4 linked regions of the Homo sapiens genome follow. The protein of the gene in region 4 purifies or fractionates together with the protein of the main gene of each other region. This does not show direct contact. Each region holds a gene or a part of one and is shown on either strand. Other genes may lie near its edges.

Region 1 (3,500 bases), on a different chromosome or scaffold from region 4:
GCCTTTCTTGCATTGACTGCGGTAAAGATTTCTGGTAAGCTTCACAGAATTCATGTAGATCCATAGTAAATCCAGATCAGTTTTGGAAGCCTTGGCGCCACAAAGCTTGGAAAAATAGTGGCAAATTTGAAGAATGAAATTAAGACTAAAAACTGGTATGTTCCATTGATTAAAACTGGTGTGATTCTTTCAAATGTGCTTTACTAGGCCGGGCGCAGTGGCTCAGGCCTGTAATCCCAGCACTTTGGGAGGCCAAGGTGGGTGGCTCATGAGGTCAGGAGTTGAAGACCAGCCTGGCCAACATAGTGAAACCCTGTCTCTACTAAAAATACAAAAATTAGTCAGGCGTGGTGGTGGGCGCCTGTAATCCCAGCTACTCGGGAGGCTGAGGCAGGAGAATCGCTTGAACCCAGGAGGCAGAGGTTGCGGTGAGCCGAGATTTCACCACTGCACTCCAGCCTGGGCAACAGAGCAAGTTAACCCCTTCTTGGGGGGGAGAAATGTGCTTTACGAAACAATTTGCTTTTTGAGGATATGTTAAAGAAAAGACTAGGGGAAGGGGAATTATGATGATTAGAGTGTTCAGTCAGTTGGTGACACTGGTTGCTATTGCATTGCCACTGTTTACAGACCCAGGGAACTAACTGCGTGGAAGATGGCTCCAGGGGTTTAGAGCCAGTTTCATTAGACCATGGGTATCACATGCCCATCACAGTGGAGAGATGGACTTATGAACCAGAAAGTGAATTTATGAGCTCACAGTGGGGCAGATGACTGGTAGCAGAGGAAACTATGTCCTCCCTAGAAAATCAGAGGTGCTGGTGGAAGTGAGGCTCTTCCTGGCCCCACGGGTGTGTCAGGAGACACTTCCACTGAGGAGGCCTCTGTGAATGTGAGGAGTTAGCGGGGAGGGACAGGACAGATCCTGCCTTAGACACCGGTTCTTCAGGTGGGTCGTTTGCAGAGGGCTCCCCTCTTGAATTTCATGTTGATTCCCCTTCAGCCTCAGAAGGTCCAGGCGAGAAGCTGGCTTCTGGCTGCATCTGCCCCAGTGTCCTCTGAGGCATTCGGATGGTACTGGCTAATACTCTCTTTTAATTCATTCTGGAGCAGTGATTTTTTTTGGAAACTGCTAACCTCTGTTCAGACGTAATCCTAGGAGGAAGCTTGATATATAAAGTAGGTTAAAATTGAGTTTTCATTAGGGGACTTTGCCCTGGACCTTGTCCCCAACATTTCCCTGAAGAACCCCATAGAGCTTTACAAAGATTATATGAGAGAGAATTTAGTTTTCTTTTTTCTCAGGACCCTAAGGGATCCAGAACTGTTGGTAACCTCATGCTGCCATTTTATATCTGTTTTTGATTTATTCTACAACTAATTATTGACTGTCTATTAGACATTGAGATTTTTATAATTTAAAAAAACTACCCTATTGCATAGAACTATTTTCTTGTTTATTCAGTATATGTACACTTATGACTTAAAAAAATACTGCCTATCAATTTAGCTTAAGGTGTTTATAAAAATGGGGGAAAAGTTTGGTGATGGGTTTTATATTGACGACTTTGGAGGAAGGGGGATGTGGTTCTGACCAGGAGGCTGTAAACATAATAAGTGAAATAGATGGGGTGCTTGTGTGATAGACACATGTGAAAATATACAGTGTAGACCACAGAAGATAGTGGCAGCATGCTGGTATTAGCGCCTCCAACTTGGGTATCAGTCTAATGGCAGAACTTTTGATCACTTTAAAGGGGCGATGACTATAAAAACCACGTGAAATGCATAAGTGAAGATCAGAAGTATGGTGGCAAAGGCTATGAAGGTAAAACCCACAAAGGCGACATCAAACAGCAGGCGTGGATTCAGGTAACGTCTCTCTAACTCATTGAGTAGCTTCCTCTGACAGCTTCCGCTTTCTTTGGAAGCCCAAGAGACTAAGAGTAAATGTGTCATCCCTGCAGACAAGCTCTGGAAACCTCATGTCCTAGGATAGACAGGTTGAACTAAAACCTCTTGAAAAAGAATTCTTTGGCTGGGCATGGTGGCTCACGCCTGTAATCCCAGCACTTTGGGAGGCCAAGGCAGGCGAGTCACGAGGTCAGGAGTTCAAGACCTGCCTAGACAACGTGGTGAAACCCCATCTCTACTAAAAATACAAAAAATTAGCCGGGCATAGTGGCGGGTGCCTGTAATCCCAGCTACTCAGGAGGCTGAGGCAGGAGAATCGCTTGAAGCCAGGAGGCAGAGGTTGCAGTGAGCCGAGGTTGTACTGGGTGACAGAGTGAGACTCCGTCTCAAAAAAAAAGAAAAAGAAAAGAAAGAAAAAAAGTTCTTTATTCTTCTAGCTGTTAAAACAGTTGCGGTGCATTATACCTTTAATCCATGTGTTTTGTTAATTTCTTGAAAAAAAAGTTTTAGAATTCTCATTAGCTTTCCCTTGGCTGTAAAACTAAATGGAAGCTTCTAATCTCTCCCTGCTTCTAGTGATAATGGAGCTTTTATAACTCAAGCCATGTTAATCTGTCACATCTGCCAGTCATTAGAATTAGGCAAAATAAAGATACTTTCGTCAATGCAGAGAATTTTCTACTTAACTAAAACAGCATGAAAACATGCACAGTAGAAATGGCAGAAACATTGACTCCCTAATTCACTGGGAAGTATAACTCTCAGAATGCTACTGATCATTTACAGAATAGGTAGCAGGAGGAAGGATTCAGAAAGGAAGGTGGGATAATGAAAAGACGGATGTCATCTATTGAAAATTCTGTGTTTTTCTAAAAACCAATAAAAAGTAATCGTTCCATTTGATAATAGAGTTGGAACGTGAATTTTTCAGACATTAACTAGCTTACTGAATGAGCATACTACTGGGAGGGTATTTCTGTTCACAAAGGACTTACTAGAGCAGATTGAGAAGCTAATGAAATCCTGTTTGCACTGGTGACCAGCAGCCACACTTTTGAGCACTCTCTGTAATTCTCTAAAAACCAGATGACGTTCCTAGACCCTAAGGTTGAGGTGCATGGGTCTGTGAGTTCCGTCTCTGCTGCTGTCACACTCGATGAAATCCTCTGAAGCAGGGGTCAGCAAACTACAGAAACTTATTACAGCTTTGTAATAAGTTTTGAAATCAGAAAATATGAGATCTGCATTTTTGTTGTTCTTTTCAAGATTGTTTTGGCTATTTGGTATCTTTTGAGATTCCCTGTGAGTTTTAGGATGGATTTTTCTGTTTCTGTAAAAACGTATATATACACACACATTGGATTTTGATAGGAATTGTATTGAATCTGTAGATTGCTTGGGTAGTATTAACATCTTAACAACTTTAAGTCTCCCAGTCCATGAGTACGGAATGTTTTTCATTTATTTGTGTCTACTTTAATTTCTTTCAGCAGTGTTTTTTGGTTTTCAGTAAACAAGTCTTTTGCCTCTTCAGTTAAGTTTATTCCTGATTATTCTTTTTGATGCTGTTGCAAATGGAATTGTTT
Region 2 (3,500 bases), on a different chromosome or scaffold from region 4:
CAGTAGTCCCCCCCACCAACAATTTTGTTGTCAGCAGTTTCAGTTACCTGCGGTTAGCCAAAATTCCAAATATAAATAACTCATAAATTTTAAATTGTGCACCACTCTGAGTAGCATAATGAAATCTCTCACTGTACTACTCCATCCCACATGGGATGTAAATCATACATCCAGTGTATTTCTGCTGTATCCGTTACCTGCCCATTACTGTACAGAAAATAATAATAATAATAATAATAATAATAATAATAATGACAGAGTTTGGTACTATCTGAGGTTTTAAGCATACACTGGGGGTCTTGGAACATAACCCCCATGGATAAAGGGAGACTACTACAATTTATAATTTGTAAAACAATATGCAGTTTAAAAGTATACAACACAATACTATACACTGGGTATAGATACGTATGTTACTAAAATTGTGAAAAATATATAAGAGAAAAACACACACCAAGAGGAATAATTACCTCTGAGGTAGAAAAGAAGATGGGTGGAATTAAATATTAAGATATAGCAAAACACTGACATTTCCTAAACATAGGAAGTAGATTATAAGAAGATCTGTTACATTATTTTCCATACGTTTGAAGTAATTCATAGTTAACAAAATTATTGGGTTTCTTGTCTTTGTTCGAAACAAGGTCTGGCTCTATTGCCCAGGCAGGAGAGTAGTTGTGTGATCTCGACTCATCACAACCTCCGTCCCCCTCCCGGGCTCAAGCCATCTTCCCACCTTAGCCTCCCAAGTAGCTGGGACTACAGGTACGTACTACCATGTTTGGCTAATTTTTCTGTATTTTTTGTAGAGACGGGGTTTCACCATGTCGCCCAGGCTGGTCTCAAACTCGTGAGCTCAAGTGATCTGCCGGCCTCAGCCTCCCAAAGTGCTGGGATTATAGAGTGAGGCACTGCACCTGGCCAAAATTATTTTTGTATGAAGAGGACCCTAATTTTATCATATGGATGATAACTTATTGTTGATTTTACTTTTTATTTCTGATGAGCAACAATTTTTTAAAATACCTAGAGTGCTTAGTGATTATCTACGATTTAACCATTATTGGGCATATGCTGCCACCTAGCAAAACTTCCCAGAATAGTTTAATAACTAAACACAAATTGGTTCTTACGGAAATGCCCTAATTTAATATTTCAGAAAAAAATTATTAAAAAGTACTATGCACCTAATCACGACACAAGCGTTTTGTAACTTCATAAGCGCATACAAACGTGGTTCTTGACATTCTTATGTTTTACAATATGTGGAGGAAACTCATTTTGTTCTTTGGCACTTTAGTTTCTACCTTTACTGTCTTACATGAAATGAAAAGCAATTTTCTAATGGGCTTAATGGTAATTTGCTATCAAACAATAAAATAGGCCAGGCGTGGTGGCTCATGCCTGCAATCCCAGCACTCTGGGAGGCTGAGGCAGGCGGATCACGAGGTCAGGAGATCGAGACCATCCTGGCTAACACGGTGAAACCCTGTCTCTACTAAAAATACAAAAAAAAAAAAAAAAAAAATTAGCTGGGCGTGATGGTGGACGCCTGTAGTCCCAGCTAGTCGGGAGGCTGAGGCAGAAGAATGGCGTGAACCCAGGAGGTGGAGCTTTCAGTGAGCCAAGATCCTGCCACTGCACTCCAGCCTGGGCGACAGAGCGAGACTCCGTCTCAAAAAAAAAAATAAAAAATAAAAAATAAAAAAAAATAAAATGTCAGTTGTACATATAGGCCGTTGGCCTTCCTATGAAATTAAAGCACTCCATCAGATTGCTACACCTCCTAAATCTGATTTTTACATATCACTGCTGCCTAAATTTTAGAAAACAGATGACTTGAGAAAATCTAGCTCTAGTTTTGCAAATTATTTACGCACTAAATGCTATGGCACTGTTGTTTTCAATTGTGCATTTCTCCTCTAGTTCTAATGGAAAGGGAGGAAAAAAAGCATTTAGGAGATTTTCCCTCTCATTTGAACATTAGTTGACAGTTATGCTATCCATGCTTTCATCTGCCCATTATATACCTACTTCTTATTACCTGTAGACAAGGTACTGTGCTGGAGGTTAGGGAAGCTGCTATAAAAGCAATCAAAAATTCTCTCTTCAAAGTACCAAAAATATGCAATAAATAATCATCAGGATAGAGTAAAAAGTGATGGTTTATTTTTTAGAAGAGTAAAGATAAATTTTTACTTTACTTCGCAAGAATAACAACAAACTTTAATCTTAATCTCTTTACAACATACTTAGTATTGGAAGTTCTGGCCGGGGTAATCAGGCAAGAGAAAGAAATAAAGCGTATTCAAATAGGAAGAGAGGAAGTCAAACTGTCTCTATTTGCAGAAGACATGACTGTATATCTAGAAAACCCCATTGTTTCAGCCCCAAATCTCCTTAAGCTGATAAGCAATTTCAGCAAAGTCTCAGGATACAAAATCAATGTGCAAAAATCACAAGCATTCCCATACACCAATAATAGACAAACAGAGAGCCAAATCATGAGTGAACTCCCGATTCACAATTGCACAAAGAGAATAAAATGCCTAGAAATACAACTTACAGGGATGTGAAGGACCTCTTCAAGAACTACAAACCACTGTTCAAGGAAATAAGAGAGGACACATACAAATGGAAAAACATTCCATGCTCATAGATAGGAAGAATCAATATCGTGAAAACAGCCATACTGCCCAAAGTAATTTATAGATTTAAAGCTATCCCCATCAAGCTACCATTGACTTTCTTCACAGAATTGGAAAAAACTACTTTAAAGTTCATATGGAATCAAAAAAGAGCCTGCATAGCCAAGACAATCCTAAGTAAAAGGGACAAAGCTGGAGGCATCATGCTACCTGACTTCAAACTATAATACAAGGCTATAGTAACCAAAACAGCATGGTACTGGTACCAAAACAGATATATAGACCAATGGAACAGAACAGAGGCCTCAGAAACAACACCACACATCTACAAACATCTGATCTTTGACAAACCTGACAAAAACAAGCAATGGGGAAATGATTCCCTATTTAATAGATGGTGTTGGGAAAACTGGGTAGCCATATGCAGAAAACTGAAACTGGACCCCTTCCTTACACCTTATACAAAAATTAACTCAAGATGGATTAAAGACTTAAACGTCAGACCTAAAACCATAAAAACCCTAGAAGAAAACCTAGGCAATACCATTCAGGACTGAGGCATGGACAAAGACTACATGACTAAAACACCAAAAGCAATGGCAACAAAAGCCAAAAATGACAAATGGGATCTAATTAAACTAAAGAGCTTCTTCACAGCAAAAGCAACTATCATCAGAGTGAACATGCAACCTACAGAATGGGAGAAAATTTTTGCAATCTATCCATCGGACAAAGGGTTAATATCCAAAATCTACAAAGAACTTAAACAAATTTACAAGAAAAAAACAACCCCATCAAAAAGTGGGCGAAGGACATGAACAGACACTTCTCAAAAGAAGTCATTTATGCAGC
Region 3 (2,422 bases), about 18 Mb from region 4:
TTTATTTGCATTTCCCTAATCCCTAATGATGTTGAGCACTTTTTTATGTGCTTACTTTTGCCCATCATTTTTCATTAGATTGCCTTTTATTATTGAGTTGTATTGGTTCTTTATGTATTCTTGATACAAGTTGTCAGGTGTATATTTTATGAATATTTTATATAACTGTGTCTTGCCTGTTCATTTTCTTAACAGTGTCTTTTGATGAGCAAAAGTTTTATTTTTGATTGAGTGTAACTTACCAAATTTTTGATTATTACTTTTTGTATCCCTAAGAAATCTTTACTTACCTCTGTATTGAGAATATATTTTCCTTTTTTTTTTTCTGAAAGTGTTATACAGTTTGCTTTTATATTTAGGTCTGTGGTGCATCTCAAATTCATTTTTATGTGCAAAGTTGGGGTCAGGATTCACTTTTTTCCCTATGGATATTCAGTTGTTCTGCCACCATTTATTGAAAAGACTATTTTTTCCTTTTGCTCTTTAATTGTTTTGGTACCTTTGTTGAAAGCCATTTGTCCAAGTGTGGGGCCTATTTCTGAACTCTGTTCTCTTCCTTTGATCTACTTGTCTTTATCCTAATCCTGCACAGTCTTGATTACAGTAGTTTCGTGCTGAGTCTGGAAGTCAGCTAGTGTTAAGTAGTGCAGCTTTGTTTCATTTCAAGATTCTTTTGGCTAAGTCCTGGCATTTCCACATAAATTTTAAAAATTGCCTCATCCATTTCTATTAAAAAACGAGTATATAGAAACACAGTGGTTTTCATATATTAATTTTATACCCGGAGACATTGCTATATTCACTAAGTTTTTAATGCATAGTTCCTGAACACCCTGGACTTTCTTCCCTTCATGTTTTCCTATGGCTCTGTAGATGTGAATGTCCTTGTCTTTTATGTCTGCCTCCTACAGAGGTCCAGTGGGAATGCCATGGCATTGTGAAGTTGTCTGACACTGTCCCAGCTGGAATCATATAGTCCCCCTAAGAGTCTCTGTTAGTGCACCTTCCACACTCAGTCTTGAATGAGCCATTTTTTGAAGGCAAGAGCTTTACTTTATCTTCCTCTCCAGTCCCACAATATTGAGCACAGCATCTTGTTCACAGTCTGGAACGTATCTTTTCGACATTTATATCAGATAGTAGGGAATTATGTAGCTGTTGGGTGAAGTGAAGGTGGGGGACATTCTTATAGGAAACCTCAGTCAATTGAAATATACCAATTGGAATATACTCAATCAATGGGAATCAGTTGGAATACCCTGAGGTATATCCTAAAAAGGGAATATGGACCTTTTATCAAAAACGTAGCCCTATGTTTTCCCTATTCAAAAATATGTTTACTAGTGGATGATTTACGACACTCTAAATGACTTGAGTTTTTGCTGTCAATTTTGAATTTTTGTATGTCTAAATACGTTTCTTCTTACTTCATTTTTGTTTTCTAGGTGGCTGACTGTTCTTGGGATGAAACAATAAAGATCTATGACCCTGCTTGTCTTACTATTCCTGCTTGAGATACACTACTTTGGTCAGAAACAGAGGATGTTGGCTGAAGAACTGCCTAACAGCAAATAAATTAACTATGGAAAACATAGACATTATGCTTTTATATGCTATTCAGATTTCAAATCTTTCCAATTTACCCTGGAATCAGTTTTGAGGGAGCTGATAAAGACTTTAGCTGACTCGTTAAGCCTGATACATAAGCCATATTTAAAATTCTAAGAAATAATTAATGTTATGATATATCTTGTAGTATCTATTAAAATGTCTCTGGGTCATAAAATGGATTAAAATATGGGAGATCAGTAGGTTATACTTATATAGATAGTGATATATTTCATTTTTAATTTGTCATTTTTGATGTAAAATATAATCACTGCTGTGATAAATAAACTATCTATTGATCATTTATCATTTTATAACTTCCCCCAAAAGACTGCTCTTTCTAATACATTGTATATGTGAATATAGTACTATATATAATATAGATATATCTGTGGTTCAGTAACAGGACACTAGAATATATTTAATTTATTCTTTTATTTAGTAGCTGTTTATTGAGCATCTACTCAGTGCTTGACACATAGACTCAATGAGATTCTGTCAAGGACTGGTGCCATGTTTTTAAGAACATGGAATGCTGTGAGCTAAGAGCTTACTTTTTTTTTTTTCTTAGAATTTATTCACACATTTTTAGATATTGTACCCATGACTCTATAATTTTGTCTTCCCACTTCTCTAATATCAAAATTTTTTTAAACTGTCAATTAAACAAAAAGTTTTAGGTCCTACTAAGGCTTCTAGCTTTTGCCCTTGAAACCAGGCCTAAGTACAGCTATACGTGCTCCTTGCCACCTCCCTAAGTTTTCTTGAAAAAGCTCTAGGTGCAGATGAACTGAAAAAAACAAAAAAAGTTGGT
Region 4 (3,500 bases):
ATGCATGTGGAGACTAATGATTCTCACGGACAAAAGAAAACATTCTTAAAGCTGTATTTTACAAGAAATAGTTAAGATTCCAAAATATCAAATGGAGATTTTAAAACATATATAACAGACAATTTTGTATAAAACAATGTAGCTAGTCATATTTTCCCACTGTTTGAAAAATCATTTAACTAAGTCTACCTGTTCAGTCTCTATTTTGAACAGTGGACAGGCAATCTGGACTCTAAGAGGCAAAATGCTAAGAACGGATCAGGCTGCAAACAACATAGTCCCTAGCAAAGAAGCAATGCTGGAGTCAGTAATGCCTGCACAGCCTCCCCAGCTCTGCAGCAAGTTCAATACACAAACTGCTAATGAGACAAAAGGAAAAGAATCACAACAACATAGGCTCCAAGAGGGCATGGTTTTTGCTTGTCTGGTTTACCACTATATCCCAGGAGATGGAAAAAAAAATCCCTAGGCCGCGATACATGTTCATTAAATATTAGTTACGTGCATGAACAAATTAATGAAAGAATGAAATCCTACATCTTTCAAGTCAATCTATATAAATCACATTAAGTTGCAGAATTATTTTAAAAACAAATTTGTCATACATCAACTTAATAGTCAAAATTGTCTTTAGAGAACATGAGCAACATAGTCCCCATTCTGAATAAATAAAGAAATGTCAAAGTTACTGAGATTTTTCCTGACCTATAATAGGTATTTTAATACATTTACATAGCCTTCCTTAAGTTTAAAGGATGGCTGTATCAGAAACTCTTATAAAACAAAATTAGAAAGACAAAACAAATGCATAAAATCAAAATCAGAAAAAGCAAATGCATCATGTTTACCATCAAATATGAGACAGAATCCATTTAGGTACGAAATCACAAACTATAGAAACATTTCTCATCAGCATTTATTTCTCATAATCAATAGTACCTCTACCACAATCTGCTGCCTCTATAATTAGAAAATCAAAAATTCAATTCTTTATTCCTATAGCATATATGTCAATAATTTGTCATCTTATAGTTCAAAGAAATTCTTCAAAAGGTGTATTTTATTATTCAATTAAGAGGTCTGCAATTCACTCAAATAGTTCTATCTCTTTTGTAAAATCACATGGAGCAGAATACAAGTAAACATAACAAAAGTTTATATATATATGATTTATGCTCACTATTGAGCATAAAACTTTTTTCTCCAATTAACCTTTTTGTGAAGCAATTCAACTTATTCCCTAGACGCTCTCTTTTAAGACTACCAATCTATTCTAAGTGACAAACTTCATTCTGCTTCCCAAGTACTAACCATATAATCAAATACACTATTCCACTACCAATTGAAACCTAACATATTCCAAAGGGCCTGCCTTATGTGGGTTATCATCATCTTACTATGCTTCTTGTGTCCATGCTGCTGGAAAAGCAGTCTGTACAAGCAGGAGTAGAGGCACAATCCTGAGAGAGAGGAGTAGAGAAAGATGTTGAGAACACAAAACCAGACAAAATGAGCTCACTTAAAAGTTCAGGAGCTCAGCCAGTGTTCAAGGTCAAGGTTGATTACATTCTTTCACACCATTATGAGTTAGAAGTTGTCCAAAACAGCGTAACTGGCCTTAGAAAGAGATATCTGAAATTGTACATACAACTAGTAATACTATCACTAATTCTAAGCCACTGATACCCCTTCTGAAAAAGATGCAAACGGGCCGGGCGCGGTGGCTCACACCTGTAATCCCAGCACTTTGGGAGGCCGAGGCGGGCGGATCACTTGAGGTCAGGAGTTCGAGATCAGCCTGGCCAACATGGTGAAACCCCGTCTCTACTAAAATTACAAAAATTAGCCGGGTGTGGTGGTACATGCCTGTAATTCCAGCTACTGGGGAGGCTGAGGCAGGAGAATTGCTTGAACCCAGGAGGCGGAGGTTGCAGTGAGCCAAGATCATGCCTCTGCACTCCAGCCCGGGCGAAGAAGCAAGACTCCATCTCAAAAAAAAAAGAAGCAAATGATCATAGAATATGACTCTTTGGGACACTGGGGCTATAAAGTCCCCTAAATGTTAATCACAATTACTATAACAAATTCAATGCTAGTCTAGAATGAAATAATTGAACTCCACGAAACATGCATTTCCATCATGCCTAAAATTTTTTTATATTTAATGATGTGTGATTAACACTCTCAAATCATGCAGTCTCTCAAAACCATTATCAGTTTCAATTATCCTTGTATTCTATTTTTAATGTAAGAAAAAAACTTCTATATGTCATTTCAAACAGAAAAACAGCAAAATCAGACTTGAAAATAACATAATTACTAGACAACATAAAACTCACAATGGACTTAACCTAACTGAAATCTTCAATGGACTAGTTCCCTCTCCAACTCTCCTCCCCAAAGTAATAACCAGATGTTCAGAAATGTTAACTACCTTGGCCAAGGTCATTTAGCTACCTAGGATTGCATCCATTCATTCAAGAAATCTTTACTTAGCGGCCAGGCACGGTGGCACATGCCTATAATTCCAGCACTTTGGGAGGTCAAGGTGGGCAGGTCTCTTGAGACCAGGAGTTCTACACCAGCCTGGGCAATATGGCAAGACCCCATCTCTATTCAAAACACAACAATTACCCAGGCATGGAGGTGCGTGCCTGTGGTTCCAGCTACTCAGGAGGCTGAGGTGGGAGAATTGCTTGAGGCAGAGGCAGAGGTTGCAGTGAGCCCTTGATGGCACCACTGCCCTCGAGCCTCGATGACAGCAAGACCCAGTCTCAAAAAAAAAAAAAAGAAAAAGAAAAAGAAAAAGAAAATCTTTACTTCACATATATACTGTATATTGAGATACTGTGCTATGAACCAAGGACATGAAACAAAGGAAATACAGTCACTGTCCTCATAGAGCTTATTATCTAGTGGTAAAGACTATTAAAATTACTTAAAATTGCTATGATCACTGGAAGAAACAGCACAGTATTTTAAGACAGTTTAACAGGAGACCTAAATCAGTGATTCTGGACCAGGGTCACTGTGCCCCCAAAGAAACATTTAATAATGTCTGGAAACATTTTTGGCTGTCATAATTGTGGAGGGTGCTAGTGGCATCTAATGCATAGAGGCCAGGGATGCTGTAAACATCCTGGAATGCATAGGACTGCTCCCCAAGCAAACAAGTATCCAGCCCAAAATATCAATAGTTCCCAAGATACTTAGCTCTTGGGTTCTCATATGAGCAGAAAGGGGTTAGTGAAAGACTTCCTTCCTTTATAATACTAATTAATATGCTACATCTTTAAAGGACTTTCACAAGGTAAAAAGAAAAAAATATAGCCTGACTGACAGAATTAACCAGAACTCCCTCTAGAAAATGATAATAGGAAAGGAAAACCAGAGACAGATTCCCTGGTAGATGAAAATAAAAGACAAATGCAGTGTTTTATAGCTGCTTCCCATAAATTCCCTATCCTGAACCATCAACAAAGGAAAAATAAACTAAAAAC

Evidence for each region.
Region 1: the proteins of SCAF8 (region 4) and LYAR purify together in Homo sapiens (co-immunoprecipitation; one large-scale study listed by IntAct). This does not show direct contact.
Region 2: the proteins of SCAF8 (region 4) and SRFBP1 purify together in Homo sapiens (co-immunoprecipitation; one large-scale study listed by IntAct). This does not show direct contact.
Region 3: the proteins of SCAF8 (region 4) and PEX7 purify together in Homo sapiens (co-immunoprecipitation; one large-scale study listed by IntAct). This does not show direct contact.

The regions. Positions count from the first base shown.
Region 1 is NC_000004.12:4,280,155-4,283,654, reverse strand, and holds part of LYAR (cell growth-regulating nucleolar protein), read left to right. Parts: coding exon 1-34; intron 35-1,757; coding exon 1,758-1,872; intron 1,873-3,500. UniProt on the Homo sapiens protein: Plays a role in the maintenance of the appropriate processing of 47S/45S pre-rRNA to 32S/30S pre-rRNAs and their subsequent processing to produce 18S and 28S rRNAs. Also acts at the level of transcription regulation.
Region 2 is NC_000005.10:121,964,975-121,968,474, reverse strand, and holds part of SRFBP1 (serum response factor-binding protein 1), read right to left. Parts: intron 1-3,500. UniProt on the Homo sapiens protein: May be involved in regulating transcriptional activation of cardiac genes during the aging process. May play a role in biosynthesis and/or processing of SLC2A4 in adipose cells.
Region 3 is NC_000006.12:136,912,013-136,914,434, forward strand, and holds the end of PEX7 (peroxisomal biogenesis factor 7), read left to right. Parts: intron 1-1,445; coding exon 1,446-1,514; 3' UTR 1,515-1,922; downstream 1,923-2,422. UniProt on the Homo sapiens protein: Receptor required for the peroxisomal import of proteins containing a C-terminal PTS2-type peroxisomal targeting signal. Specifically binds to cargo proteins containing a PTS2 peroxisomal targeting signal in the cytosol.
Region 4 is NC_000006.12:154,739,916-154,743,415, reverse strand, and holds part of SCAF8 (SR-related and CTD-associated factor 8), read right to left. Parts: intron 1,461-3,500; coding exon of another isoform or gene 1,398-1,460; intron 1-1,397. UniProt on the Homo sapiens protein: Anti-terminator protein required to prevent early mRNA termination during transcription. Together with SCAF4, acts by suppressing the use of early, alternative poly(A) sites, thereby preventing the accumulation of non-functional truncated proteins.